Regions from separate parts of the Homo sapiens genome. Here all the other regions are linked to region 6. A link means that fine-mapping ties the variant in region 6 to the plasma level of a protein whose gene starts in the linked region. Region 6 holds a variant in brackets. A gene starts in each other region. All regions are shown on their reverse strands.

Region 1 (4,224 bases), not on the chromosome of region 6:
AGAAAAGACGGAAGAGGGCACAAGGGAGGCGCAAACGAGTGGAGGTGGGCTAGAGAATAGGAATCTTCGGATGTTCTCGGGCTTCCTGAGATGGACAGAAAGGGGGCTGAGAAAGGAAGGTGGAACCCCCCCATGCCACCAGGCACTTCCCGACACCTCCCGCTCCTCTTCCAGCAGTCAGGAGCGCGCGCTCCGGTGGGGCTTAAGCCCTGGAGAGTCAAGGGAGGAGAGACCCAGCAGGAAATGGGCCTGGGGAAGGGACGGTTCATTATTATTATTTTAAAAAAATTTATGTTTCAATTTATATGCAGACTAACCTTTTTGGAGTGTGGAGATCTTTGAGTTTTGACAAATGCATAGAGCCGTGGAACCACCATCAAGATATTGAGCAGTTCCAGGGGGCGAAGGGAGGGGGGGTTCGTAGTCTCCCCGCTTGTTAGCTGCTGCGATTGTCTGCGCTCCCACGGGCCGACCTAAAACAATTCTTGCGCACACGCTGAGATAAATAACGGCGACAGGTGGAGCAGGTGAGATTAGCAGGACCCGGGTTGGGCGCGGGGCGGGATCGGAGGCGCGGGGGAGGCCACCAGCCTCGCTTGCCAGCCTACGCCCCTCCCCGCGGGCGTTTGGGAGGAGCGTTCTCCGCACTCCTGCTCCGCGAGGGCCCCTTCGAGGCGGCTGAGACCCGAGTGCCGGACTCCCGCCGCTGGAGCGGGGCTCGGGTTCGGCAGCCGGAAGGAGGTGTGCCCCCGGGGCGCTTGGGGGCGCCTGAGGTCCCGAGGGGAGGCAAGATGGGAAGAGTGGCTAGCCGAGGAAAATGTGGGGTGACTTAGGGAAGCTCTGGCGGAGGGGTCGTGCGAGCAAACCTGTTGGCAACCTGTGGGCCGCGGCAAGGGCAGGAGCTCTCAGCGCGACCTCTCCGCCAGCTGCTCCGGCCCGGCCCCAGCACCAGACGCCTGGAAAGGGGCGGGGGCCTCTCGAGCCGGGCAGACAGCCTTGCAGACCCACAGCCGCGGCCCGTCTCGCGCGGCTGCAGGACCCCAGGAACCGCAGGCGCCCGGCCTTTCCCTAGGACCCCCGCTTCAGTCCCGCCTCCCCAAAGTGCAAAACATTTACGAAGTGTGCAGTGCCCTGCGGGCATGGGTCTCCGAAGCGAGCGGCCGTGTTTGCCCCGCGGGCTGCTGGCAACGGTGCACCCGGCTCGGCCAGCTAGTCTGGGTGTGCAAGGCTGGAGAACAGCGAGTGTGCGAGCGCGCGGCTGCAGAGCCCCCGCCGAAACCCAGGTCCCTCCGCCACTGTCCTCGGGATAGATGGATCCATTTCTGCTTTCTGACATTTTCCTGCTGGGCGGGGTTGGGGGGGAATGTTAGGGGGCGGAGAGAGGAAGAGAGAGAGAGGGAGAGGAGAAAGGGAAAGAGAGGAGAGGAGAGGAAGGGAGAGAGAGCGAGAGGGAGAGAGAGAGGAGAGAGAGAAGAGAGAGAGAGGAGAGAGAGAGAAAGAGAGAGAGAGAGAGAGAGAGAGAGAGAGAGAGAGAGAGAGAGAGAGAGAAAGAGAAAGAGAAAGAGAAAGAGAAAGGCAGGCAGTCAGCTTCCCCCAGCCCTGTTTTGTTTTCTCTAATTGGTCCTGGGGGAGGCGAGGAAATTGGACAGAGGCTGGGCCAGGCGAGCTGGGCTGCCTTTAATTGGCTCCTTTTTTTAACTGGAGGGGAATCAAACAGGAGAGCGAGCGACAACGGGTGGGAGAGCGAGAGACCGAACGAGGAGACGCGAGGAGGAGGGAGGAGGAAGAGAGGGAGGGAGGCGGGAGGAGCGCGGAATGAAAAGCTCGGAGGGGCGAAAAAGCAGCACAGCAAAGCCCAAGTTGCTGAGCGAGCGGAGCGCTCCCGCGGCCCGGAGCCGAGCGGCCGCCGCGCCCCGGAGCCCGGCCCGGCCCCGCCCGCTCTGGGCCCCCGCAGGCCAAGGCCGCCGGGCGGGGGCGGGGACGACCAACTTGGGGCGCGGCGTAGCCCCGCTCTCCCGAGAGCTCGGAGCCCGGGAGGGCTACGGCCGCGGCCAGACGGCGGGAGAGGAGCGCGGCGAGCGGAGGCGGCGAGCGGCGCCCGCGCCGCAGCCCCGGCCTGGGCGAGAGCGCGAATATTTTTCAAAAGACTCAAACTTTCCTCCTTTCCCCGTTTTCTGGGGCCCTTCTTGCCTGGAATTGCTCTCCAGATTCCCGCGGGGCGCCGGGCTGCTATTCTTCCCCCGGGTTTATCGGCGGCTCGGCTAACTTCACGGACCCGGGGACCCGCGGCGCTCGTCCCTCGGCCGAACCCAGCCCGCGCTGCTCCCCGGATCAGGAGGGCCGGGCCCGGGGCTGCTTCGCCGCCGCGAGTGCTTTCAGCCCGGCCCCCTGGAGTCGGGCCGCTGAGCCCACGGCAGCGGCCGCAGGACTGGAAACAGCAGATTGATTAACTCGAGCGGAGCCCCGGCCTCCCCGACTCCGCTCCGCTGAGGGGCGGCCCCAGTGCGGGGAAACGACAAGTTTGTCAGTCGTCCGTGGCCTGTTGGATCGAAGCGCCGCCTCCGCCGCCGAGAGGTCCCCGGCGCCTAGCATCCCGCGCGGACGGCCCTGGGTACCCGGGGCGGCTCGGCGGCCGGGCTCCTCGGGTCGGGGCGCTGGCTGCTGTGCCGGGCGCGCCGAGGCACCCGGGGCTGGGCCAGCGCCCCCTGCGTCCCCACGCGGGCAGCGGCCCCGCCGGAGGAGAAACACGGGTCGCCGCCACCTCCGCCTCTTCAGTCTCCTGGTCTTCGTCGCCGCTCTCTCTCTCACCTCTCAGGGAAAGGGGGGGACATAGGGGCGTCGCGGGGCCCCGGCGAATGCGCCCCCCGCCGCCTCTCGGGCTGCGCCGCCTCGCGGGGATGAAGCACCGGCCGTGAAGATGGAGGTGACCTGCCTTCTACTTCTGGCGCTGATCCCCTTCCACTGCCGGGGACAAGGAGTCTACGGTAAGAGCCCGCGTCCCGCTCCACCTTGGCTTAACCTCGCGCGGAAACTTTGCAAGAGGCGCAAAGTGCGCGCTGCCGGGGTTTGGTGGAGACCTCGACTCGGACTCTGGAGTGGATGCCCGCGTCCCCGCCCTCTCCAGGGCGCGTGGAGACCGAGCTAGCTGCTTCGGAACACAGGGGCCGGTCGTAGGGTCTGGTGGGAAGCCGGGATGTCAGGAGGAGGCACCCACTTTCCCACACCCTGCTAGAGGTGGGAATGATTAGGAACCCTTGAGAGCACCCGGTCGGCTCGGGAGACCCGGACAGACCCAGTCTAGGACTGGTGCAGCGACTTGCACCGAAACCTCGTCCTGGCTCGGCCTCCGGAGTGGAAGCCAAGCGATGCATGAGCCGGAGTTGCCGCGCGGCTTGCGGGCGAGCCGGCTGTCAGCACCAAGGCCGGGCGGCGGGCTCGCCTTCCCCGCTGTTGCTGCGGCTTCGCTTCTTCTACTCAGGGCTTGACACCCTGATCAGGATGCCGGCATCCCCTGGCCCTGGCGCCTTCGACCCCGGCATCCCTTTTCGGACCTTCCCTGAACCAGTTCTTCCTGTCCCCGGTTCTTGGCTACAAACCCCAACCCCACCTTCCTTCCTGCGCGCACACACAGATACATTCAGCCACCATCCCCAGAAAACGCAAACACGGCACGCACCCACCGGGATACGTGTCCAAACTCTGCCTCCTGCCACGCAGCCTTGCTCCTGCGTCCGCACGCCTCGCTGTGGTTACCAAGGGAGACTCTGGTTACCCCTTCCCCCTTCCATCCTGTGGGTTTTCCCAGGGAAGGCCCGGGGCAGGCATCATCCATTCAGTCACCTGGGCTCAGCCTCCCGCAGTGCCTTAACCCCACAGCACAAAAAATCATTCTCAGGGGCCCAGTGGCCCTTACTTTGCTTTCTCTTTACTGCAGGATGGTTTGTCCAGGTCCCTTTTTAGTGATGTGTGGCTGGGGCGGGCAGGATTCTCTCTTTCCTTTTCTGTTGGGTGGAGGGACTAATGATTCCTCTTTTAGATCCAGGGGAGGTTGACCTGTTCTTTGTGGGGTAGTATAGGCACTGACTACTGGTTGCCAGCCTCAGGTGCTGAGGCTAAAGCACCCTGGAGGGTGCTGACCCATCTGCCTGTGCCTGGCAAGAAGAAGGGGTGTCCTGAAGGGTGTCTGAGAGGTGACATGCTCCTGGCCCTGCCCAGCTAGCTGGC
Region 2 (4,240 bases), not on the chromosome of region 6:
TCAGTTAAAACACTGTGTACATGTAAAGAGTTATTATTATTATTCAACAGAAATCACAGCTTTCATAAAGCCCTTCACCAAATTCTCTGCAGTTCTCCAGCCTTAGAGTCTGGATTGTGCACTTGTCACTCATATGCTGCTGCCTTGGGTGTGATTTAAATAATGTTTAATAGTGATGAAATAATAAATGGTTTTAAATAGATTAATAAATAACAGATTATGATTAAATAAATACATGGTTATGTCTTGTCTCCTCAGCTCCATCACCAGCTGCCCTAGTGTGGGGTTCTCCTTCCGTGTGTCCTACAGAGCACAGGGGCACAGTAGGCACTCTGTAGGATCTGTTGAAAGAACAAATGAGGGCACACCTCTCCCCTCACCCTCCCACATTACACAAAAGCACACAGAGTGATCCTCAGGACCCCCATTCCCCAGGCACCTGTGAGGACGGTGAAGGTGAATGAATGGTAGAATTGTTACCAGCGAGACCAGCAGCAGCGCAGCTAGGACAGCCACTACAGTGCGCCCCTTCAGCAAGCAGCATGCAGACTCTGAGCACAAGCTGCAGACCACCCACACGTCAGAGGTGCCTGGGGCACCCACCAGCATGCCCTGATCCTTGGGGAATTTGCATTCTTTGCACGTGCTCCAGGTCGTTCTGATGCACCTGGAGATTTGTGCAAGGCAGGAATGTGGGCTGCAGCCCATTCCCTAGCTGTAGGGGTGTTCTACATTCAACTCAGCTGGCTTAAACTCAACTCAGTGAAGAGGACTCACTGTCGTATAACTGATAAGTCCCAAGGGGAGTGGGGTTAAGGGGTGGCTTCATTCAGGAGTTCAACAAGATCCTCCATTCTGTCATCCAGTGTCCACCTCATCTCAAGGCCAGATCCTCCTTCCCTACCCTGACCCTGTCAACTTCTGAGCCTACAAAGTTCCTTGTCCCAGGCTGGGAGAGGAGGCAGGAGTGGGAGAGGTGAGGAGAGAGAGTTAGTTCATTTGTTTGTTTGTTCTAGGGGCTCTTTTAGAAAGGCAAGAAAGCTTGCTTCCCAAAAAAACTTTTTCTTTTGTCATATTGCCCTTTCTGAAACGATGGGCTGGGAAGGGCAACATACTGATTCATTTCAGCCTGAACCGCATGCCTCCTTACACACACACACACACACACACACACACCAGGGACGGAATCACCTTCCCCGAGTCTGTGGCTGAATGGGTGAGGTGAAGATGAAGTAAAACCCAGATAGCCAACCGAAAGATAGTGAGGTTGGGAGACGAGCACAAGCCCACTTCACTTATGTGAACCTGGGTCTTCTCAAACTCCAGCTCATCTTCAGGGGCCCTGACTGAACATCACCTCCTCTGGGAAGCCCTTCCAATACCTCCCAGATAGAAAACTCTATCCTTTGTGCACCCACACACCACCTGTACTCACCCATCCATCCACCCGCCCACCTACTTTGTTCCTGGGTGTTAGGGGCTGAGTACTCCATTGTGAACCAGAGATTTCTACCCTGATGGTGTTTTCAGTCTGCACAGGAGAGAAAAGTTAAATGATCACACCAATTGATGCCTTGCTTCTCTACTAAGCACAATGAAGAGAAATGAGGGAGAGCGGGCTGGGGAATATCAGCATGTGTCTGGGACTCAACCTGGTGGGGACGGGAAGAGGGGGTGAAGGAAGCCTTTCCTGAGAAAGTGGGGGAAGGGCGCTCTGCTGTGGCTTTCCCTGCATCTTGGCCTTCCTACCCTCTGCCTCGGCTTCCTCCATTGCTGGAAAAGCCTCCACAAGCGCGGTGGAGGTCCGGGGCCTGGATTTAAAGCTCTTGAGATAAATGTGCATTGAATTTAACTACCAGTGATTAGAAGAGGGAAAGAAGGTGGCAGGGTTACAAAGAAGAGCTTCACGTTAGGTTAAGAGGGGGTGCACGGTGTCCCTGGGTGCTTTGGAATGCCTCAGGTGTGGAGGCTCAGGGAGTGGCAGTGGAGGCGAATCTGCATGTATTCCAGGGTCAGAAGAAACACTAGCCTCTACAATTCAAGCCGCAGGGTGCAGGGAGACACGGGGATGTCTTAGAATGGACCTTTGAGGGACATCCACTCACTTGGCCAAGGGAGACCTGCGTTCCAGCAGGTGTTCCTGAGCCAGCTTGGGTACCCTCTGAGTTTTGTGAATCTCTTTTCACTGGGAAATGGGAATAAAAACCACTTTTCCTGAACAGAATCTGACTGAGGCGGTGCGGTGCTACACTGGTGAGGGGGTTCCCAGGAGCGGTTCTCTGGAGTTTTCTCCAGAGGCTGACGTGGGGTTGGCGGAGAAGGAGCGCTGCACAGGCGCGTCGAGGCAGCGCGCCGCCTGCCCAGGTGGCAGAGCGGCCGAGACTGGCCCAGAGCCCGAGCCGGAGTGGTGTCCGGCGCCCCTCCCCTCCGCTCGAGCCCTCCCACTTCCTCTGAATGAGCCGCAGCTGTCAGGGAGCCCGGCGCCCCGCGCAGTGCAGGCTGCAGGCGCCGCGCCGAGGAGGCTGCCGCTCTGGCTTGCCGCCCCCCGCCGCCGCTGCACACCGGACCCAGCCGCCGTGCCGCGGGCCATGGACCTGCCCAGGGGCCTGGTGGTGGCCTGGGCGCTCAGCCTGTGGCCAGGTAGGTGCCCACCCTCTGCCTCCCCTTGCCTCTCGGAGTCCCTCCCTGGGCCCTCGGGGCTTGGATCCAGCGGCCAGGATCGGGACGCGACCCTCCTCCCAGGGTCAGACCTCAGCTGCTCTTGGGGACGTGGGTCCCCCAGGGACTGGCCCCAGTCTAGCGGTTCAGTCAAGTTTCGCTAAAGAGGGAGGTGCGAAGGCTATTGAAAGCCGGGACTCTTTGGTGTGTTTGGGAAGAGTTGAAGAGGCTTGAGTTGAAAAGCTCCCAGATCTGGTGGCCCTCCTGGGCGCCTTAGGTGCCTCCAAGGCCCATGCCGGGGTTCCCGCACGGCTGCCAGGGGCACTCGGGTGTCCCGGGAGCGCCGAGGGCGCACGGCCCCGGCTGGGGAAGGGAATCAGCGCCAAGAGAGTGTGCCCTGGCTGCCCTCCTGCCTGGCTCCGGGGAAGCATCTCAAAGTTTGGAGAGCCGGGCGCGGCGGCCCCGGAGGGCTGAAGGGTGGGGGTGAGGGCTGCGCAGAGTGCCTCCGGCCAAAGACAGAGCAAAGCCCCGGGGCGATGGCCGGTAGGCGGGGGCTAGCTCTCGTCTGCCCGGCCAGCAGCGGCGGGACACAGTCGCGCAGCGCAGGACCCCCGAAACGTTACCTGACACCCGGGGTAGGGACCCGGCATTGCCTCCCAACCCGCGCTCGGAATTATGCAATTATTCAATAATCTGGGGAAAGCCGCCGTCGCCTAGACGCGCGCCGCCGCCTAATGCACTCCAGGTGTCGGGGCGCGGCAGGAACCTCCGGCCCGAGGGGCGCGCGGCTGGGAGCGGGAAGCCAGCCCTGAGCTCTCCGCCCTAGGGTACCCTGGCCCCGGCCGTCCCACACCGGGCTCCCCGGCTCCACCCTCCACGCGGGGCGGCTGCCAGTGATGCTGTTCTGCGGAAGACGGCCAAGTGCTCCGGCAAGGGCCAGCGCCTCGGTTACTGGCCGGGTGTGGGCGCTCAACCTTGCCTCCCCTTCTGCGTGGGCTCCAGGCCCGAGCTGGGGCCAGTAGTGGGGGTCAGATGCGGTGGTAGTGGGAGAGGTGCCCTCAGGGAGCTCAGGTGGAGACCCCTATCCCGCAGCCGCTTGCCCCAGTCCCCGGGTACCACGCGAAGCAAGTCCACCCTCCTGTCGGCCTACAGAGGAGCTTCTCAGAGGGCCCATGGTTGAAAGGGCCTCTGGCTAGTGGAATCCTAGAGTCACAGTTTAAAACAATCATTGATACATTGAGTTGTGGGGGCTTGGAAGGGAGAGCAGGGGAAGAACTGCCACCAGGCCAATATGCAACTAGAAGCCAGCTGCGGGAGGAGGCCAAGCCCATTTAGGTGTGTTTAGACAGGAGGGGAGAATCTTCTCCAGGAACTGTCCTCATATCACTAGGAGATCCAGCCACAAGAAAAGAGACGCACTCCTGTGTGACTCCAGATAGGTGGCTGCATCAGAACCTTGGGAAGGAGTGGCTGCCTTAGGGGCTAGGGACAGCCTGGACCTCAGGAAGCTAAGAGCAATGGCTTTGGAATCAGACCTGGCTTCCACTTCTGGCTCTGCACCCTGCTAGCTGTTCAATCTTGG
Region 3 (4,240 bases), not on the chromosome of region 6:
CCTCCCCTCTCCCAAATGAAGAGAAAATTATCTGGCCCCAAATGTCCTAAGTGTTGGGGGTGAGAAAACCTGGAGTTCAGGGGAGTGTTGAGTGTGAGAAGAAGGATTAGGATGGAGCCCCAGAGAGCTCCAGACATTTAAAGGATGGGCAAAGAACAGGCACTTGAGGAGACCAAAAGGAGTCACCAGAGAGAAGCCACTGAATGAGGCAACTTCCCGAGCCTTGTTAAATAAATGTAAGGCATGGAAAGAATGGACTGAATGCTGAAGTAGGGTGTTCTAGAATCACAGCCTCCCTGGAAGTCCCGAAGAGGAGGGACAGTTGACAGGTTTTCCTGATGCATCCTTCTCTGCTGCCCCCTGTCTGTCGAACCACCAGAGACACTACCAATGGGCCGAATGGGGCAGGCACAAAGCTTTAGGAAGAAGGGCTCTTCATTTCCTCTTACCTTTTCTTAAAGGGCATGCCTCAGAGAACATCAGGGAAGCCCATAAGACTTTGTGACTTGGTACTTACATAGTTAAACAGATGCAGCAGGTTCAAACTGGCTGCAGAAATTTGAGCCCTCTCCGAGTTTGCCCTGCTCAGATTCATAGGAAAAGTGTAGGGTAGTTCAGCTCTTTCTCTTGCTCCCCAGGTAGGAACTCCAGCTGAAAATCTTTTTCACCCAGTGAAGGGTTTAGACTCATTGGAGTTTACTGCTAGAAATGGCTTGAGATGTCATCTGGGCTTTCCTCCTCATGTGATATTTTACTAGCCTGGCTTGGCATCTTTGGAGGTGGAGACTGGTTCTATAGGAACTAGATTACCTTTCTAGAGTGGCTTGGCAGTGTAAGAACACCCTGGGCTTCCCCTAAATAAGAACCAGACTCTTTGGATGAATCCTGAAATGTATTTGTCTCATTTATCCTTTTCACTTACTATGTTTAATTCATGTTCCCTAAAAAATAAGATAATGCATTTAAAGTTCTTAGCTTCATACCTTGACCATTGTAAATTCCCAATAGATGTCACTTGTGCTTGTTGTTTCCTCAGCTGTTTTAATCCTTAGTCTTTAGTTTTAATCCTCAGTCAAAACTAAACTAATTGTGTAGGTTTAAGCTTTGGAGAGAAAAACCATGTGCCTTAAATTCAAGTTAAACTATGTTTTTAAAGATTAACATTCAGAGAACATGTTTCCATATTGCTGATGCCCTAATAAATAGCATATACCAGAAGTCTTACCACCTGAAGATTGATATACATCAATCTCATATAAATAAATCCTCCCTTTTCTGTAGATAGCTGAGCCAGCAATTGGACTACCTTTTCCTAATGCAAGTAAGATAAAAGAGAAAGCAAAACATACATACTTGCATCCCATAGTACACAGCTTCTTACTCAACTCAAGCAACAGTCTCTGAGCACATCAAAAATCAAGATTTTAGGCTGCTGAGGTGGAAATCCTTTGGCATGAAGGATCAGAGCAGGGGAGACCTTTCAGATTGTGGTGCCCAATGTTTTCTCCTGGGTTCCACTAATGCTGCAGAGGGGAACAGGGAGTTAGAAGGAAGAGGAAATGTTAGAAGACATTTCTGAAGCTGGAAGATGCTAGCACACCTTCCCCCAGTTCTGTTAACTTCCTGGAGCAGAAACAAACCAAGTGTTATACTGGAAAAATTTCGGCCCAAACTGTCTACTAGCAACAACAACAACAAACCACACTCCACACAACTAAGGGCGGAGTGGGAGTGATTTATACAACGTGACCCTCCTGTTCTGACATTCACTGCACTCTCGCCTGCCTTGCAGGACATTGTCCCAACTGTCCTCAGCGCTCCTCATGCCCCCTACCGGAGAAAGCAAATATATTTCAGAATTAGAGGGCAGCAGAAGCTCCTATTTTCCCCCAACTCTATACTTGGAAAAACTCTAAGGCAGAGGGAGCAAAGTTCAGTTTTCAGCCAAAGAGTGTCTTTCTCTCTCTTGAAATTCTCTCCCGCACCCTCTTGTATCCGGTGTCGAAAACAACTGCCAGAGGTTCTTTTTCTTGGTCCGAAGAAAAAAGACTGGCCAGACTAAAAAGGAGGGACTTTAGGGGGAAAGCAGGCTTCCAGCCCTGGGCTGCGGCCCAGAGGGGGTGATGTCACCGCTTCTGCACCGACGGGCCTGGGGGTGGGGCGGCCGAGGGGGAGCCCGCGCCGCGGCTGCAGCTGCCAAGGGAGCGTTCCGAGCCCACGTCAGGGGAGGTGTCGGGATAAATAGGGTCCCGCAATGGCCGTGGCTGGCTGCGCTCCGAGCTGCGGAGTCCGGGACTGGAGCTGCCCGGGCGGGTTCGCGCCCCGAAGGCTGAGAGCTGGCGCTGCTCGTGCCCTGTGTGCCAGACGGCGGAGCTCCGCGGCCGGACCCCGCGGCCCCGCTTTGCTGCCGACTGGAGTTTGGGGGAAGAAACTCTCCTGCGCCCCAGAGGATTTCTTCCTCGGCGAAGGGACAGCGAAAGATGAGGGTGGCAGGAAGAGAAGGGCGCTTTCTGTCTGCCGGGGTCGCAGCGCGAGAGGGCAGTGCCATGTTCCTCTCCATCCTAGTGGCGCTGTGCCTGTGGCTGCACCTGGCGCTGGGCGTGCGCGGCGCGCCCTGCGAGGCGGTGCGCATCCCTATGTGCCGGCACATGCCCTGGAACATCACGCGGATGCCCAACCACCTGCACCACAGCACGCAGGAGAACGCCATCCTGGCCATCGAGCAGTACGAGGAGCTGGTGGACGTGAACTGCAGCGCCGTGCTGCGCTTCTTCCTCTGTGCCATGTACGCGCCCATTTGCACCCTGGAGTTCCTGCACGACCCTATCAAGCCGTGCAAGTCGGTGTGCCAACGCGCGCGCGACGACTGCGAGCCCCTCATGAAGATGTACAACCACAGCTGGCCCGAAAGCCTGGCCTGCGACGAGCTGCCTGTCTATGACCGTGGCGTGTGCATCTCGCCTGAAGCCATCGTCACGGACCTCCCGGAGGGTGAGGCCGTAGGAAGGATGGAGGGAGGCGAGGAGGCGCCCGGGGCTGTGGCTGCCAATCGAGAACTGGGCGGCCACACCTAAGGCTGCCAGGGGCGTCTGAGGCTTGTAGGAGGTGGGAAAGAATGGGGGAAACATTTTCTTCAGAAAAAGTCTGGTTTCTCCCATAGGAATTTTAGGAGCTAGCGGAGAGCACTGCACCCCATAAAGAAAAAAAAAAAGATTTTGCTTACAAAGGGAGCCTTCGATGATGTTTGCATTTATAGTAATAACAGAAATGATAATAGCAGTAAACAGGTGTTGCTAGGTGTCTGAGCAAGTGTTAAACACATTACACGTTATTGACTCATTTAATGCCCAAAATAATCTCACCAAGCAGGTGCCAATACTCGTTCCATTTAGCGCTACTTCTTAAAAAGTTTTTTTTTTTCTGAAAAAGCAGTAACGGTCATTGCTTCCCACCAGGAGTGAGATTTGTAATTGCAGTTTCCCTGGAAAATTGTGAGGTCTGTTTCATAGTCATTGGCCCGGAGCCAACTACAGTGGCATTTTAGTTAACCCCATCTCTGCTTCCACTTCCTTCTTTTTTCTTTGGTCATTTGACTGCTTTTCTAAAAAGAAGGAGAGGTTTAAATTCACTTCTTGAAATGAAACCTAGGAATATTTTTGCATTCTTTTATCCAGGCTTTATCTGGCCCAGGTTACCCCACATTTAAACAGACTATGATATTGCTGTGCTGGAATCTCTGAAGTTATACCCCAGAGCATTGCTCTAAACATGAAGGAGGAGTGGTTAAGTGAACAGGGTAAATGGAAACTCCTCTCTAATTTAGAGTTTTAGGAAAGAAAACATATTTATTGTTTAAATTATATAAATAATAGAGGGTTATGCTTGGTTTTGGTTATATACCTGTGAACTGTTTCTGCACTGCAAGATATGAGGTAGGGATTTGGAAATATTTTGGTTATTTTGATTAACATAAACTGTTAACTTGGAAAATCAACATTTAAATATGACTTTGGGAGAGAGTGATGTGATTTATCCAGTTTGGTTGTATATACCAGTGAGGTTAAATGGATATACATTCACATCGATTTGTGCTTGGATAGGCAAATATTCCCCCAGAGGATTTCTTTCCTAAGCCCTGGATATCATTATGAAAGGAGAAGTCAACAATCACATGCCGTTTTTACTTATATAAATATTTTTTGTCTTGTTTTCTTTTTTTGAGATGGAGCCTCACTCTGTT
Region 4 (4,000 bases), not on the chromosome of region 6:
CCCCAAATGACAGACTGAGGAACGTTCATAGTACCTCTCCAAAAGGTAATTAATCTAGTTGAATATATAAACAATTTGTGGCTTATTCATGTATGAGAATACTATACAGTGACAAGAATGAACTACTGTGTATCACAATGACACGAATGGATCTCAAAAGCATGTCACTGAATGAAAAAAGCCAGATGCAAAAGAGAATGCACAGTATGATTCCATTTATATAAAGTTCAGGAAATAACCTATGGTGCTGAACTCAGGCTGTGACTTGAGGAGTAAGAGGAGGGATTCTGGATGTATGAGAATGGAGTGTGAGGCTGGGATTTCTTGATTGGGGTCATTTTGTAAAAATTAATTGAGTTGTACCATTATGATATGTTTTTTTTTGGTAACATACACTTCAATAAACAGTTCAGAAACAAAACATTGTGCAGGACAAACTGAATTTGACCCAAGGGCTTCCTGTTTATGACTGTGTTCTGAAGGAATTTAGGCAAACACTAGATGCTCTGGATACAAAGATTTTAAAAATCCAGTTCATATTTTCATTATGTTCCCAATTCATCCAGTTAACAGATACATTTGCAACTGAAATATACTTGAATAAATGAGAATATGAGCATTCTAAACCAAACAGGAGGGCCGTCATTCCCTAAGGTGCTGCAGGGCTAGGATGGGGCCTGAGTTACAGAGGGCCACTAATGGGACTACCGAGCTGCCTGGAACTGTCAGCCTAGAGGTCCAAGGAGGAGTACTTTATTTAAGTGAGGGGAGGATGAACACATAGCCAGCTGCTATGCACATCTGAGGCACATGTATTCTTTAGGACTGTAGCTGCCTTGCTTAACACAATGTGTGCCATTTCTCTGGAGAGAGGGAACAAACGATGGTCAGACTCTTGATGACAGTAGAGAACAGGTCTTCTAACCCACTGGAAAAGCTCTTTGCTGGCCTCCAAATCTATACAACAGTTGGGAAGAACCATTGGGGTCACTTACAACAGTAAGTCCTTGCCACTAGGGTTAGAAAACTGTCCTCTCAGGCCGGCCATGGTGGCTCATGCCTGTAATCCCAGCACTTTGGGAGGCCGAGGCGGGCAGATCACGAGGTCAGGAGATCGAGACCATCCTGGCTAACACAATGAAACACTGTCTCTATTAAAAAACCAAAAAATTAGCCAGGCGTGGTGGCGGGCGCCTGCAGTCCCAGCTACTCGGGAGGCTGAGGCAGGAGAATGGCGTGAACCTGGGAGGCAGAGCTTGCAGTAAGCCAAGATTGCGCCACCGCACTCCAGCCTGGGTGACAGAGTGAGACTCCGTCTCAAAAAAAAAAAAAAGAAAACTGTCCTCTCTTGAAGGTCTTAGTTGATGTAGAATTGGGCAGTCTCTTGGGGATGAGTGGAAAGGGGGTACAAATAATGATTTATTTTCAGGAAATAGCATCTTCCCTGCTCTAAGTCTCCCTAAATGTCAGTGAGGCCATAGCTAATATTCTCTTGAAAAGGGAAAGTTGTATGCATCCTAAGAGGGTGTTACTTGGACATGCATGTGTGTCTGTGTTATATCACATATGTTGAGTCCAGGGAGCAGTTCATGGAGCCTCATCCATAGTTTCCCTGACATGCTATAGCAGTGCTAAAAGCTTAAAAAAAAAAAAAAGTCTGGAGAAGTATGCATAATGCAATAGCTACAGTCATTAGAAGAAAAAAAAAGTATGGTTCTTTCTCAGGTACATCTGAAGTTTGGGTATATACTTCAGTAATGTTGGTATCCTTTATTCAGATTGATAAATATTTTATTAGTCTATACAGGTTGAGTAATTTTTGAAATTGTAATTTACAAATATTCATTCACTTAAGAATCTAATATTTTTAAAACTAGGTATTTCTTGAATGACTCCGACTGCACTTTCAATGGCCAGTTGCCATGCATTATTAAACTTTCTTTTTTTTTCTTCTTCAGAATCTTCCAGTAGACGTCTAGAGTTTAGCTAGAAGTCTTGGCTACGATACAAACAGTGATGGAAAACACATGAGCAGTAACAAGTTTTAATCTTGCTCCTCAGTACTAACATGGACTAATCTGTGGGAGCAGTTTATTCCAGTATCACCCAGGGTGCAGCCACACCAGGACTGTGTTGAAGGGTGTTTTTTTTCTTTTAAATGTAATACCTCCTCATCTTTTCTTCTTACACAGTGTCTGAGAACATTTACATTATAGATAAGTAGTACATGGTGGATAACTTCTACTTTTAGGAGGACTACTCTCTTCTGACAGGTATGTTTCATGTCTATCTTACAAGTATCGATGTATACTTTACAGTCAATACTAAGGAGACATTAATGTTATTAATAAATGCTTATAAATAATAGGATAAAGTCCAAAGTTTATCTCTATAATTTCTTAAAAATCAGCATTTAAATACAAACCTAAATTTGTACCTAAAATTATTCTAGTTTTATGTCTTACCTATAATGAATGTATTTTAAATATAATTATGTGACTTTTTTTTTCAGCTAAGTGAAAACCTGTCATTATGCCTTACCATAAATGTTAACATGATTGATTTTAAAAGTCATCTAAATAAACATCTTGTATGTTTATCTAGGAAAATAACATTGCTATAATAATGATCATGAAGTTTGGGGATATCACAGCTATATTAAATGAAACAGTAAATATATTTTTCAATATTTAAAATATTTTCTAATGTGTATTTAAAATGTGTGAATTACTGAAATGTCAATTTTACTTATACATTTGAATATTCATTTTTTTCCTTGATAAATGTCTTCCTTATTATAATGAAATGGCACTGAAAAGTTCAAATGGAAATCTATTCAATTCCAAGAAAGAATACTTATCAGCAATAGTTTAGCTAGCACTATATTCAATATGAAAGATTAGGAAATTTTCACAGCATGTATACAGTCAGAATTTAACACTTTCAAAGATTTCCTTTGTCTACTCCCAAAGTAAATTTCTGATTAAATTTTAGATTAAAAAATTTAAGCAATGTATTCAATATTCTACTCCCTAGTAATCTAAATAGCGCACAGCATTCTTTCATGTTAATCTATTCAGAGGTGTGGCACCCAGGAAACAGTGGCCACATGGTGTAGGGACTGAGTCATAAAGAACCTGAGGGGGTTGTATTTCCCTAAAAATAAAGTTGTTTAAATCCAAGAATCAAGCTGTTAAAAGAAAGAAATGAAAAAAGAAAGAAAAATCGAGCACAAGCCCACACACATAAAAGGATCCTGATGTTTTTAGTTTGTTTTTTGGCATTAAGGAGTATAGTGTAGTAGTGGAAAGAACAGAGGATATATAGTCTTCTGTTACAACTAACTACTCAATTAAAAACAAATATTCTGATAACTGATCTGAGGTTTGAGACAAAAACAATTAACTTTACAAGCACAAGTCTTGAGGCACTGTGGGAAACATCATAAAAATGGAGAGGCAGTAGATTTTGTTTTTTAAGACAGTAGCTTGATTGCTAGACATGTGGAGAAATTAATGAAGGGCAAAATTAGTATAAAAGGAAGAACAGCTAGAATGCTTTGTCAGAATGCTAGTTATACTTCTAAGGTAAAATTAACTACTTTTTAAGGAAAGTGCTATCTTTATCAGTATCCATGAACAAATGGTACTGTGAATAAGTTTCCAAATGCATGTTGGACTTTTAACTCATTTGTTAGCTTACAAGACTATGCCTTGATTACATCTGAATTTGGTTTGGATTCCTTCGGTGAAATATATGGAGTATGTTATATCACATTTATATGCTGAAATCTGCTACTGGTACCTGTGAACTGATAGGCATGTTTAAACCCAGGGGAAAAGTTGCCAAGCGGGCCTTTAAACATGGGATTTAAAAGCACAGTGACTTATTTACCTAATAATAGTGTCTGAGAGGAAATACCATTTCACTTAGATAAACTTTCTAAGTTTGTAGACCAGTTAAATGGAAACAAGAAAGCTTATGTGCTTCTTAAGCTTTA
Region 5 (4,240 bases), not on the chromosome of region 6:
ATTTAAAAAATAAAATAAACCCATCCGGATAAGGTGGCTCATGCCTGTAGTCCTAGCATTCTGGGAGGCCAAGGGAGGACTGAGCCCAGAAGTTTGAGGCCAGCCTGGGCAATGTAGTAAGATCCCATTTCTACAAAAAATACAAAAATTATCTGGGTGTGGTGGCACGTGCCTGTGGTCCCAGCTACTCAGGAGGCTGAGGTGGAAGATCACCTTTAGCCCAGGAGTTGGAGGCTGCAGTGAGCTGTGATCACACCACTGCACTCCAGCCTGGGTGAGAGTAAGACCCTGTCTCTAAAAAAATTGATTAAAAAAAAAAAAACCCAATAGTAAGCAGATTTTAAAAGAAAAATAAAAGCCTGTGGGGGTGGGTTTTGGGGGCAATCAATGTGAAGGTAAATTTGAGGTCGCACCCAGTGCTGCAGCCGACTCTGCCTCCACACTTTGGCATCCTTGCTGTGTCCACCAGCAGAGAGGTGGTGGCTGGGCTGCCTCCACCTACCTTGTCCACACTTTCTCCTTCCTTCAGGGCTACGAATGGAAAATGGTAGGAAATCTTTAGTGCTTGATACACTGCTACATTCTGCCTGCCCTTATTTTTTTCTGGGCAGAATATTTAGTCCAGAGCAAGGTGAACCTGGTGAATGGCTGGGTTTTGTTACACTGCCCAAGAGGCTGAGGACTCCTCTCGAGCTGACAGCGCTGATTCGGCCTCCTGCTAATCTGTTTTATTGAGCAGAGCGAAGTGGACTGGTGAAAGAGGGTGGAATAATAGCAGGTGTCCCCCATCGGGTCTATTCTGTGTTCCTTCGTCTTTAAAGTAGCCTGTCCTGGGAGGTATCCTGAGGGTGGGTGCAGGTCTGCCTCCGTAGGAACAATCCCCACCATGCACGTCTCTCACGCCAAGCAGCTGATCTCACAAGAACACAATTACCCAGTTTTGCAAATGAGGAAACGAAAACTCCTCGTTTTGAAGGAAATGAGGAAATGGAGCAAAGCCACTGGAGACCCAGCCCCTAGGCTGGCGGGGAGCCCGAGCCTGTCCAACCCCAAACCCGGGCAGGAAGGACAGAGGTCGGGATGGAAGGCTGCCTCCTCAACTTACCCGCTGTGTGGCTTGGGGCGAGTTCCTTGCCCACTCTGTGGCCCGTGGCCTCGTGTGGGAAGCGGGACCATCACAGTGCCGGGCTCCGCGGGCTGCTAGGAGGACGCGCGGCGCACTGCGGGCCGGGAACGTGCTGCGCGCTGACACCGGGTCAGCTCCCTGTGATGGGACTTCCTTTCCAAAAACGTAGGCGTTTTCCCGGGTCGCAGTCGCAGTCGGGAGACTGAGGGTTAGGGCGCGGCCGCGGGGTCTCCTGGGCCGGGGCGCGGCCCACGTCTCAGGCCTCTGCGGCTCTGACCAGAAGCCGCTGCGCCTTTGGCCGCTTCCCACCCGTCCCGTCCCCGCAATCCCAGGCCCAGGGTTACAGCGGCTCAGCTCTCTTCCTCTCGCGAATCTGCACACTGCTTCAGTGGTCTGGACCCTGGCTGCATAGGCAGATCCCAAGAGGAACTTTTAAAACAAGGATCCTCTGACCCCACTCCCAAAGATTCCGGTTTCATTGCGTGGGTATCAGTATTGTTAAAAATGCCCTGGCCTCTCCTGCCTGACCAGGGTAGAGAGCCTGGGCTTCAGCTCCTCTCCCAGCAAGCTCCTGCAGGTCTGTGAGGAAGCCCCGCAGGAGGAGCAATAGCTTCAGGGCTGGGGAGATTCGTAAATTTGCCTCCAGATTGGAGACCCCATTTCATGTGAGGTCTCCACCCTTTTGGATGGAAGCTGGACATAGTTTAGTTGGTGGAGTTGCTTTGTTCTGTGGCCGGAGGCTGTCCAACCCTCCCCCAACCACTGTCTGGCAAGAATGGGTTGCAATTGCAATGGAAAAGAAGCTTCACAAGAGAAGGGCAGCATAGTTTTTACTTTCCATGAGCCGAAAGCAAAGAATGGAGCTGGAGGCATTTTGCTGTAGTTTCAGCCTTCCCAACAGTTTGCAGAAGAAGAGATGAGTGAGCCAGAGATGAAAGCTTCCTGAAGAACTTCAGTCCAACCTCTAGTTCAGAGGATATTATTAGCCATCATTTCAGCCAATGGCCAGAGAATGGGTTAAACATAGAAATTAAGGGTTACTCACGTTTGGCGGCATCAAGTGGCAATCTTGCAGCCAGGAGCAGAAATCCCAGGAAATAGTAGAGACATTCCATGCTGAATTCTCACGGACGCAGGCACTCAAGGTTTAACTCTGAATTCCTCTGGGCCCGTCCACCAAGAGCAACAGTGTTCTTCTGGCATCTGTGGTGCCTCCCTCTCTATTTTAATTAAATACAGGGCCTCGGGGAGGATCATGTGATGGTATTAAGCGGCACTGCCTGATCTGGTCTCTCAAGTTCAACCTCTTACAACTCATGTGCTTATGACTCACTCCTTCTTGGCATCTATTTATTCACTTTTCAGATGCACATTATTTCAATTTTGTGATTCCACATTTACTAGATTCAAGGAGTTTTTTTCCTATAGACTCTATTTCAATATTCATTTTTTTTTTTTGAGATGGAGTCTCACACTGTCTCCCAGGCTGGAGTGCAATGGCACGATCTCAGCTCACTGCAACTTCCACCTCCCAGGTTCAAGCCATTCTCCTGCCTCAGCCTCCTGAGTAGCTGGAATTACAGGTGCCCGCCACCATGCCCGGCTAATTTTTTGTATTTTTAGTAGAGGCAGGTTTCACTATGTTGGCCAGGCTGGTCTCGATCTCCTGACCTTGTGATCTGCCCGCCTCGGCTTCCCAAAGTGCTGGGATTACAGGCATGAGCCACCGCGCCTGGCTCAATATTCTTTACCAAATAAAATTTCAATCCTCCAGCCTCACTGATTATCGACTTACTGTGGTTCCTATACTGCATCAGGCACCCAGCTCACGTTTAGAGTTCACAGTTACGCACCCTTTCCTAAGATGTAGTTGTCCACCTGCTCCTGTGCTCGTGATTGCTTGTATATTTTTTTCCTCCAAGAGGAAGCAAAGATGGGGGAGGTGTCTTATCAATCATTTGAAATTGTGGAATACATAAGTGGATGATAACATGAATGTTGTGCCAGGATGTGCTGGAAACAGCTGCCCAGGCCTCTGGTAGCTGAGAAATTTACTCAAAAGCACATTTAGAATATCTGTGCAATTCCATATAACTTTTGTAATAACCTGCATAATTTTTGGTAACTGCTCTCAAAGCATTTATGTGTTGCATTACTCAGAGCCAATTGCATAAAACGTTCTGTGTATTTTTTCATATTATAGAAAGCAGGCATTAAATGTACAAACAAGTGTGTCTGTAAGATAAATTTATACAGTCAAATCATTCCTGGTTACAGAGTATGCAGAAAATGTGGCAACATGAAAACTTTACCATATGTGACCTTTCTCAAACTCACATTCACATGGCCATTTTCAGTGCAGTAGAAACCTTGGTTGCAGGTGAGGGTAAAACTTGGGGTATTGATTTATGGTTCAGTGTGTCAAGGAGGAATGGAAATAGCCTATGAAACTAAAATCCATACAGCAGGAGTGGCTGACTTCCATCCCTAAGGCGGCAAACAACTCTGTAGAGTGCCTTTTACAGCCTTTGCAGCAAATATGAAGGGGAAAACAACGAAAGGAACACATTATTCATGACTGAAACAATTTTCAAATATTGATGAATAAAGGAATAATGGAAATACTTATTAGTTTCATGTAATGTAAAGCGAATAATGTATATAGTTATTTGCTTTTTAAATTACTTAAAAACTTTTTTTTTTTTTTTTTTTAGAGACAGGCTCTCACTCTGTTGCCCAGGCCGGAGTGCAGTGGCATGATTATAGCTCATTGCAGCCTTGAACTCCTAGGCTCAAGTGATCCTCCCACCTCAGCCTTCCAAGTAGGTAGGACTACAGGCACACACCACCACACTCGGCTAATTTTTTATTTGCTTTTTATTTTTTGTAGAGACAAAAATCTCACTATGCTGCCCAGGCTGGTCTTGAACTCCTGGCCTCAAGTGATCTTCCCACCTCAGCTGCCTACAGCACTATTTGCTTTTTATGACAAACACATAACTTTTACAATTAAAAAAAAACACCTTTTCAATTTAAGGAAAAGCTACTATTAACATTTTTAAAGATATTTTTGTCCTTTGTTGCAGACACAGTTCTGGCTCATATTTCTAGCCA
Region 6 (4,240 bases):
GGGTGACTCTGGGATCTCTTTTATGAGGCACTAATCCCATTAATGGGGGCCCCCCACCCTCATGGCCTAATCACCTCCCAAAGGCCCCACGATTGCCTTGGGTGTTAGGATTTCCACATATGAATTTTAGGGGAACACAGACGTTCAGGCCATAGCAAATATCTTGCCCAAATATCTCTAGTTCCATCCTTTTGGTCACTCTCAGACCAGAACATTTACTGAGTGATTACTATGTCCCACAAAATTCTTATTTAACCCTCAGAAAAACCGTCTGGGGGAAGCATTGTTATCACTCCTATTTCATGAGCAGTTATGTAACTTGCCCCAGATAAGACTTGGTTATGGCACAGATTCTGTGTTGGAGCCTTCAGACCACTCTACTTCCCAAGCAGGGGAGGAACAGAACATTAAAGATTTTCTTGGCCTTGGCTTTCATTTCTTCATCGTGGTTCTGAAAGGAAAATTGGCTACAGTCTTAAATGTATGTGTGGGCCCACGCTAGAAGCTCAGCTCTCAGTGCCAGCCACACTGAGCCCTGGTCTCCCTAACTTCCGGGCCTTTACTCTGCTTGTCATTGGGCTGATAACCAAGATCCAGCCTAGAGCACAAGAAGACAAACGCTGCGTGATCTCGTGTGTAGAACCTAACAAAGTGGAACTCACAGAAGCAGAGAGTAGAATGGTGGTTGCCTGTTGGAATGGGGAGATGGTCAGAGAATGCAAACTTTCAGTTGGATGGGAGGAAGAAGTTCCAGAGATCTATTGTGCCACATGGTGACAATAGTTAATAACAATGTACTGGGCGGGGGGTGGTGGCCTACGCCTGTAATCCCAGCACTTTGGGAAGCTGAGGCAGACAGATCACTTGAGGTCAGGAGTTCTAGACCAGCTTGTCCAACATGGTGAAACCCCGTCTCTACTATAAAACTACAAAATTAGCCAGGTGTGGTGGTGTGCGCCTGTAATCTCAGCTACTTGGGAGGCTGAATCGCTTGAACCCAGGAGGTGGAGGTTGCAGTGAGTCGAGACTGCGCCACTGCCCTCCAGCCTGGGTGACACAGTGAGACTCTGTTTCAAAAAAACAAAAAAAGCAATGTACTGTATACTTGAAAATTGCTCACAGAGATTTTAAATGTTCTCACCATTACAAAATGATAAATATGTGACATAATGCATATGTTAATTAGCCCGATTTAGTGATTCCACAGTGTATACATATAACAAAACATGTTGTACACCATAAATGTATACTATTTTTATTTGCCAATTAAATATATTTTTTTAAAGTTTTAGCCTGCAGGTTTAGCTTTTTGGGGCTGAAGCCCCATAGCCCCCTCCACTTCAACACACTCATCAGCATTGTAATTACTTTGTAATTAATGCCTGTGTTCCTACTAAATTGTAAGCTCCACATGAGCTCTGCCTCCAGGTGCTTGCAAAAAAACCAAAAGGGGGTGGGGGTAGATGCTCAAAGCCTGTTTATTAAATTGTATTGAAATTGAAACGCTTGAAACAGATTTCATTCCTGCTTATTTTCTAACAGTGGTTAAAACTTGGTAACTTCAAGTTGACATGGATTTCAGAATTCAATGTAATTTCAATAATATTATAATAGAACAAACTTAGGGTTGCCAACATTTATTTTGCTAAGCAAGGCTATTTTAAAAACAACTATCAATAATTATCTTATTTTAAAAAATACATTTTAACCTTATATATACATGTTTGGAATAAAAACAGTCCTTCCTGAGAAGGAAGAGTTGGCAGACCTACATCAATAAAATAAATATATTCAAATGCTTTGGATATGGAAGTATTACAAGAGAAACATTTTCAAGTATTACTTCGTATGTAGTTGTTTCTTATTTCTCAGTTCGGGGATCTGTATTCAACAGGGACATGGAATATGGAGCCTGAGATGGTATTTTTCTGTTTCATGTTGGTAAATAGAGACCACTC[A/G]GCAATTTTGCTCTATTAGGAAAGTTTGAGACAAATGGAGAGAAGCCAAGGAACAATAGCAGTCATGCCTCCAACTGCTTCTTTCCTTCTCCAACCAAGCCAGAAAGAATGTAGGCCAAGTGTTGAGGGCTAAAAGCCAGTCGTGGAGCCGTCCAGGATTTATCTAGGAAGGGTGACATCTGCCACTGCTCCAGCAGAGCGGGGGCATGGCATGCTTCTGAGGGCACACAGTTCAACACATGAGGCACTCTGCAGCACACAGGACCAAGGTGTCATGCTGCCAGAGGGGCTGGCATTTGCCATTTTGTCAAGGCAGGGCTGCAGCTTGTGGCTTGCTCAGGACAGAAGGATGTTGGGCTCTTACGAGATAGCAGGAAGAAAGCATGAGGTAGAGGGGCTGGTCCTTACTCTCCATCCCCTGCGTGAGATCCAGGAGGCCTCATTCAGAGCCTAGCTCTGGTCCTCCATTCGCCACATGTTTTTTGAGCACTTATAGGTGAGTCACCACCCTAGGTTCTGGGGAAATGGTGAACAAAGGGCCAGAAGTCTCTGCTTCCTGGAGCTGACGTTCACTCCATAATGCTGGACAAGACATCCTGAGCCCATTTCTTCGTAAAAAGGAAGGAGAATGTGGGTCATGAAATGATCTGCTATATGAATGTAGTGTTATAATGTTGCTTTGTCTCAAAGGTTGGTTTGCTGAGCCAGGTAGTGTCTTAGGGGCCAGGGATAGAGAGATAACTAAAACAAAGCTCCTACCCTCAAGACCCTCTCAGTCTAGTGAGGAAAGCGGAGAAACTCACAAATAGGAATAAAAGGAGGCACTATATTGCAAAGCTATCATCTTGAGTTACCTGGGAGTCTGATATGAAGGTCACCCTAATAAAGACAGACTATGCTTTTGGAGTCTCAACAGGACTTGGCAGAGCAGCCAACCCTGGTGCACTCTAGACCTTGAGGGTGATAAGCCCAAAGAGGGTTGGATTGAGGGAGGGAGCTGCATGGGGGCCGTGGCCGGCAGGGTCCCTGGAGATTACAGCAGCAGAGCACTGGCTGGCTCTGAAGGGGAACCCTTGCCAGGCCTCTAGCAGAGGCTTGTCTTTCCATGTACAAGAAAAGTTAAGTGGTGAGGCCTGGAGAGGGGCCCCCTTCTGTACTGTGGTGAAGATAAACGAGGCTGGGAGAGGAGTGAGGGGACGCTATCCCAGAGAGGCTCCTCCCCACAGAGTGGGCAGAAGGAAGACAGAACTGGCCAGCCCCTCGGGGGAGTCGAGAAACCTTCCAGAGTGTGGGTCCCTGTCTCCATGCCCTGCCTCTCCAGACCTGAGTGCCTGCCCTCTGCTGTGACTGCCAGCCTCGTCTGTCCTGTTGGGTGAACTCTGTCCCATCTCTCTTGCCCCTCAAACATTTATTTATCCGGTGTCAAATTCCTACCCACCTTCCTCCAGGGGCCAGGCGCTACGAGATGAGGGGAAGGAACGGCAAGGTCAGCGGGAGCCCGTGGAGTCAGACCCTCCAGCAGCACCACTGGGGGCTGGGCAGGAGGGCATGGGCTGAGGCCACAGGGAAGGGCTGCTCCACAGGGAGGCCTCCCTCTGCTCCGTGGCAGTTGTGGTGCTGGAGATGGAGACCGTGTTTGCTTGTTGGGACCACATCTGCTTTCAGAGGGGAAGCGGGTCACTTCTTTCCCCTGGACCTGGAATGGGCACAACTGAGACGCAGGGAGCATTCCTGCAAGCTGGACACTGCTCTGGGAGAAGACCTCCATCCAACCTCCTGCCAAGACCCCAGCAGCTGCCAGTGTCACTGCCCACAAAAGTATTTGCTTAGCCCAAGAAGGAGTCAGTCAGATGTGTGGTGGCCATGAAATGGATCCTGCTGATTCTCTGTCAGACCTCCCTGCATTGGTCACTACCTCAAAGTTCCTTGGCTGCAACTCCATGTTGCCTGAATCTAGGGACTGTTGACGTATTGCAGGGGCTGGGCGCGGTGGCTCACGCCTGGAATCCCAGCACTTTGGGAGGCCGAGATGGGTGGATCACCTGAGGCCAGGAGTTGGAGACCAGCCTGGCCAACATGGTGAAACCCCGTCTCTACTAAAAATACAAAAATTAGCTGGGCATGGGGGCGCACCCCTGTAGTCCCAGCTACTCAGGAGGCTGAGGCAGGAGAATCACTTGAACCCAGGAGGCAGAGGTTGCAGTGAGTCGAGATTGTGCCACTGCACTCCAGCCTGGGTGATGGAGCGAGATTGTCTCAAAAAAAAAAAAAAAAAAAAGAGC
Region 7 (4,000 bases), not on the chromosome of region 6:
TGATCTCAAGGAAACAGGAAAGGACGGGCGGGGGCGCGGGCGCCGAGCCGGTGCGCCGGTGCGCGGTTGGGCGGGCTGCGGGGTCCGGGGCGCGATCCGGGGGCGGCGCGGGAGCCGGCGAGACACGCCCTTACCTTTCTTTTCCTCCAGAGCCCGACTCGCCGGGCAGAGCGCAGCCAGCAGCGCCAGGAGCGCTGCCCCGGCCGTCCCGGAGGGTCGCATCGCTGCTCCCCGAAGAGCTCGCTCCGGCTCTCCCGATCAATACTGGACGGAGTCAGGGGGCCGTGCGCGGTGGTTGTGGCGTTGGCGGCGAGGCGGGGACTCGGGCGGACGCCGACGAGGTGGCCTGTCGTCCGGTCTGGGCGGCGGCGGCCGCCGGGGCTAGCTCGGGACTCCGGCCGCCTCGGCCGCGTCGGGCGCTCACACCGTGCGGGGGGCGGAGGCTGCTGCGGCCGCGCTGCGCCGGGGGCTGCCCGGACGTCTAGCTCGCGCGGGCCGAGGCGCGGGGAGGCAGGGCGGGAGGAGGAGGGACCAGGCGGCGGAGGAGGGATCGGGAGGAGCAGAGGAGGAGGAGAATGCGAGGAGGAGGGAGGAGAACCAGCAGCGGGGACCCAAGGCCAGCGGCCGCCGGAGGCGGTGGACAGCGGTGGCCCCCGCGGGACCTAGTCTCCGGCGGGAGTGGGGCGGCGCATGGGAGGGGAGCGGGTGCCCTGAGGAGTTAATTTCCGAGAGGGGCGTTCCCAGCACTGCCCCTCTGGACCCGGTCCCCGCGGACTTGCAGGCCCAGCCTATGTCCAGGTCGAGCCAAATCTGTGCCAGGGTCCCCTTCCCCCTTTCCCTTCTTTTGTTTTACAAAGCAAACTTGTACCAGCTTTAGACAGACTGGCCGAGCCTTAGAGCCAGCGTCGGATAATGGCACCGACGGGGAAACTGCTCCTTTATTCGGGTCCCCACCTCCCCTGCAGCACTACGGGACCCTCTCGGGGATCAGAGGCTGGCCTGGCAGCTGAGGAGGTCGCCGTGCCCGCGCGGCAGGGGTGCCAGGCGTCCGAGGTGGTGCTCTAAAGTCCGAGGGTCCTTCAGATCTTGTCAAGCACCCTCGAAATCATCTGAAATGAGGGCACCCAACTCCGGGTGCAGAGACAGGCCTCCTTAATGTTTATTGCAACCAGCCATGGGTACTTTGAAGCCAATGTGTGAAGCACATTACTTCGCAAAAGTGAAGCTCTTGGAATAAAGGCTTGACACAAACAGCCGTGGAGGTGCTTTTAGAGAGGCTAAGTGTCCCACTGCCCCTGTAGCTCCCGCAGGAGAAATGCCAGGGAAACTCGCGGAAGCTTTGGCCAAAAGAAACTGAGCTTTTTTGGGCTGCAGGAACTTGAGCTATATTCCTTTGGCAAGTCCACCCCATCCCCACTGTTCCTTCTCCTGCAGTAAAAATGTCCTCTAGGTCCATGTTACAGCCAGACCCCTCCTCTCTTCACGAGATTCACTAGGACCTTCAGGCCTGGTTCAACAACCCTGATCTCTCGGCTCTGTCAAAAATCACAATCCTGAAGTAAGTGAAGCTACAGACCTGCCCTTTGCTGTCTCTGAAGGGGAGCAACCTTACATCTTTCCTCCTCATCCAGCAAAATGTTTGTGCCTGGGTCTCGCACCCTGCAGCCTGAACGGTGGGGTTTTTCACCAGGGCAAGCGCAGACAGACACAGGTCTGCTCACTGCCCGCACAACCTGGAACTTCCCTGTGAATTAGGAGAAGTAATCTGTTCCTTTGTTTTAACAAATCAGTACAGCCACTGTGCGTTGAAGTCATGCCCTGAATGCAGAGGCCATGAAGGCTCTGCAGGCATGTGTGTGCTTCCTGCACACCTGGGCTGAGAGCAGTCCGTAGAAACACAGAAAACAAAACTAGAGAAAGGCAAATGGGAAGCACAACAGTGGAACATAAAATGAAGACAGGAGTGAGTCTTACAATAAAAGACCTGAATACAATAAAGTCCTGTGCATTCACTTAACAAGGGCTGCAAATTTGGTTTTAAACTATATTTTCTGTCAAGGGAATGTGACCTGTGTGTACAAGTCACAACACAAATCAATTTAAGCTACAACTGATTTGTAAGACTGTACAGGAATTTCTTTGAGTGCCCAAAAAGACAGCATGTAAGAACATCAGTTCTCACTACGTTAGGACTATATGAGACAACAGCCTTCATAGTACGGCTTGTATATTCTTCAATGTGATCTGATAGCATCACAAGAAACAGAGCTTTTTGTAAAGAATTACTAGACACACACATAGCACAATACTGGGATGGATTCCAGGGAACAGAGAAGAATGGGTTTGCTGAACATCTTCATGGGACATCTATGTAAAGTTTGAGTTTCTCCTTTGAGCTTTTGATACAAAAGCTGACATTCACGTTGATTTTGTAGTCCTTGGCTAGTACCTGGAGTGTGCTGATAACTGTGTTACTTGGTAAGTAAAAAACTGTATGGCCGAGCAGGCACTAATGAAGTCCTCTTAAGAGAGATAAGTAGCCTGGCATAGTTAGGGCCCTGCACAGTTAGGGCTCTAGCTCACAGCCTCTGTGGAGGGTGGTCCTAGACCATGGCCCGGACAGAGGCTGGGTGTGTGTGCCACCACCACAGGAATGACAATAGTGGCCCAGTTGCTGTGTTAAGCATTGGTCAGACTAAGCTTATCTGATAACCTGTGAGCTGGTTAATACTTGTATCTGCCTTTTATAGCAATGTGATGCTGTGGCCGGGAGAAGTGACCAGGATACCAAGGTATACTTGCTAGTATGAGAGGCCAACTTTGAATCCAAGGCAGAGCCGTGTTTTACCCCTCTTGTCCAGCAACGCTTCAAAACCTGAGACAAATGGTGATGTCAGGACCTAAAATTCTATTTCATAATGTCTTGGAAATTTGTTAGGGTGAGTAATACCAAAATTTCTGCTTGGCCAAAAAAATTATAGATAAAGCCTTCATGTATGCTATATTAGCAAGTATGTACTAAGACTCTAGTATTTCCCTTAATAAATCTCATAAGCGTCTGTCAATTTTAATAACACAGATGGTTCCATCCCTTTGCCAGCTGTACATGAGAAACTTTTTTCCTCTGATGAGTGGTTATCCTCTTAGAAGAAGTTTCTGAGTATGTTGAATAAGAGTTTAGTCTTGTCTATAAGGAATGTGGCTCTGAATTTCCTAAAACCAAATGCTCTGTGAAAGGGGAGGAGAAACACGTTATTTGGCAGGGTGAAGATCTGAGGTCTTCAAATATTCTAAGTTCCATCTTAGGCAAAAGGCATTTGACCACCTGTTTTCTCTGGCTTAGAGGTCAAAGTAAAGATTGATTAGGAAAAAAAAACATAGTGGCAGATTTTAGACTTTCAAAAATATGTTTTATAAGTTATTGGAGCTAAGTAAAAGTAGAATAAGCTATGTCAGAGTGGAAAGGGCTTTTTTGAGAAAGATTTTTGTGCAAGAACAATAAGTACTAATGGAGGTTGTGAATTAAGGACTGACACAGGTTCCTTCCAACCCTAAAGTTCCTTAAGAAAATGCACTTCTAAAATAGGTTTTCACTTAAACATGTGTTCACTTGACAGCTCTTCTAAGGATATATGTTAAGGAGATACAAGAATCTGGTAACAGCTTTGCCTCTAGGGAGGAGAACTAGGTAGCTCGGGGTCAGGGGTTTAGAGGGAGACTTGTTTTTCAATTTGTCCTTCTGTACCATTGGGATTTTGTACCAGGAGCATGCCTCACCTATTTCTGCAAGGTAAGTGTGGCCCCTGCTGAGGTTCAGGGACACTCCTGGGGGCAGGCTTTCATGGTTTCTGAGACTGTTTATTCCTTCTCCTTGAAGGAAGTCATTTGCCTTGAGCTCTGAGTTGAGACCCATCTCTTGCAGAATGTGGAAGAAGCAGCTTTTTCAAGGGGTAATGTGCTGACAGAAAACTGCTGAAGCATTTCTCCTTTGTCATTAGTA

Alleles and levels. Positions count from the first base shown, and alleles are read on the strand shown. Strength reflects both the effect of a copy and how common the allele is.
For the plasma level of the protein whose gene starts at base 1,846 in region 1, G is the high allele of the variant in region 6 and A is the other (weak association).
For the plasma level of the protein whose gene starts at base 2,492 in region 2, A is the low allele of the variant in region 6 and G is the other (moderate association).
For the plasma level of the protein whose gene starts at base 2,267 in region 3, allele A in region 6 goes with a lower level than allele G (moderate association).
For the plasma level of the protein whose gene starts at base 2,060 in region 4, allele G in region 6 goes with a higher level than allele A (weak association).
As copies of A replace G in region 6, the plasma level of the protein whose gene starts at base 2,324 in region 5 goes down (weak association).
As copies of A replace G in region 6, the plasma level of the protein whose gene starts at base 483 in region 7 goes down (weak association).

What was found. PIP is the chance, under the fine-mapping model, that this variant and not a neighbour inherited with it causes the effect. The UK Biobank Pharma Proteomics Project read protein levels with antibody pairs (Olink). The fine-mapping took linkage between variants from a reference panel, not from the people measured, so its PIPs are less certain.
Region 1: it holds the start of MDGA1, and the variant in region 6 is fine-mapped to the plasma level of the MDGA1 protein (UK Biobank, PIP 0.93).
Region 2: ITGA11 starts here. The variant in region 6 is fine-mapped to the plasma level of the ITGA11 protein (UK Biobank, PIP above 0.99).
Region 3: it holds the start of SFRP4, and the variant in region 6 is fine-mapped to the plasma level of the SFRP4 protein (UK Biobank, PIP above 0.99).
Region 4: ASPN starts here. The variant in region 6 is fine-mapped to the plasma level of the ASPN protein (UK Biobank, PIP 0.98).
Region 5: it holds the start of GPNMB, and the variant in region 6 is fine-mapped to the plasma level of the GPNMB protein (UK Biobank, PIP 0.95).
Region 7: it holds the start of EGFR, and the variant in region 6 is fine-mapped to the plasma level of the EGFR protein (UK Biobank, PIP above 0.99).

What each region holds. Positions count from the first base shown.
Region 1 is chr6:37,695,505-37,699,728 of GRCh38, reverse strand. MDGA1 (MAM domain containing glycosylphosphatidylinositol anchor 1) reads left to right here and starts at 1,846. Exons shown (of 17, transcript NM_153487.4): 1 at 1,846-2,984. The coding sequence starts at 2,918. RefSeq lists silencers at 735-804, 825-894, 1,761-1,890, 1,911-1,980, 2,041-2,170 and 3 more and enhancers at 2,493-3,222, 3,223-3,952.
Region 2 is chr15:68,430,415-68,434,654 of GRCh38, reverse strand. ITGA11 (integrin subunit alpha 11) reads left to right here and starts at 2,492. Exons shown (of 30, transcript NM_001004439.2): 1 at 2,492-2,640. The coding sequence starts at 2,589. RefSeq lists a silencer at 491-785 and an enhancer at 3,332-4,091.
Region 3 is chr7:37,914,844-37,919,083 of GRCh38, reverse strand. It overlaps SFRP4 (secreted frizzled related protein 4), which reads left to right and starts at 2,267. Exons shown (of 6, transcript NM_003014.4): 1 at 2,267-2,991. The coding sequence starts at 2,547.
Region 4 is chr9:92,480,566-92,484,565 of GRCh38, reverse strand. It overlaps ASPN (asporin), which reads left to right and starts at 2,060. Exons shown (of 8, transcript NM_017680.6): 1 at 2,060-2,273. The region is part of intron 5 of CENPP (centromere protein P); the gene reads right to left.
Region 5 is chr7:23,244,859-23,249,098 of GRCh38, reverse strand. It overlaps GPNMB (glycoprotein nmb), which reads right to left and starts at 2,324. Exons shown (of 11, transcript NM_002510.3): 1 at 2,172-2,324. The coding sequence starts at 2,241. RefSeq lists an enhancer at 753-872.
Region 6 is chr11:126,347,220-126,351,459 of GRCh38, reverse strand. DCPS (decapping enzyme, scavenger) reads right to left here. Exons shown (of 6, transcript NM_014026.6): 6 at 1,455-4,240. All of the region lies in intron 1 of GSEC (G-quadruplex forming sequence containing lncRNA), which reads left to right. Among named protein-coding and RNA genes, the nearest start is that of GSEC, 6.2 kb to the left of the region's middle. The variant A/G (reference allele first, on the strand shown) is at 1,959.
Region 7 is chr7:55,015,500-55,019,499 of GRCh38, reverse strand. It overlaps EGFR (epidermal growth factor receptor), which reads right to left and starts at 483. Exons shown (of 28, transcript NM_005228.5): 1 at 135-483. The coding sequence starts at 222. It overlaps LOC105375284 (a long non-coding RNA gene), which reads left to right and starts at 578. Exons shown (of 4, transcript XR_007060329.1): 1 at 578-2,939.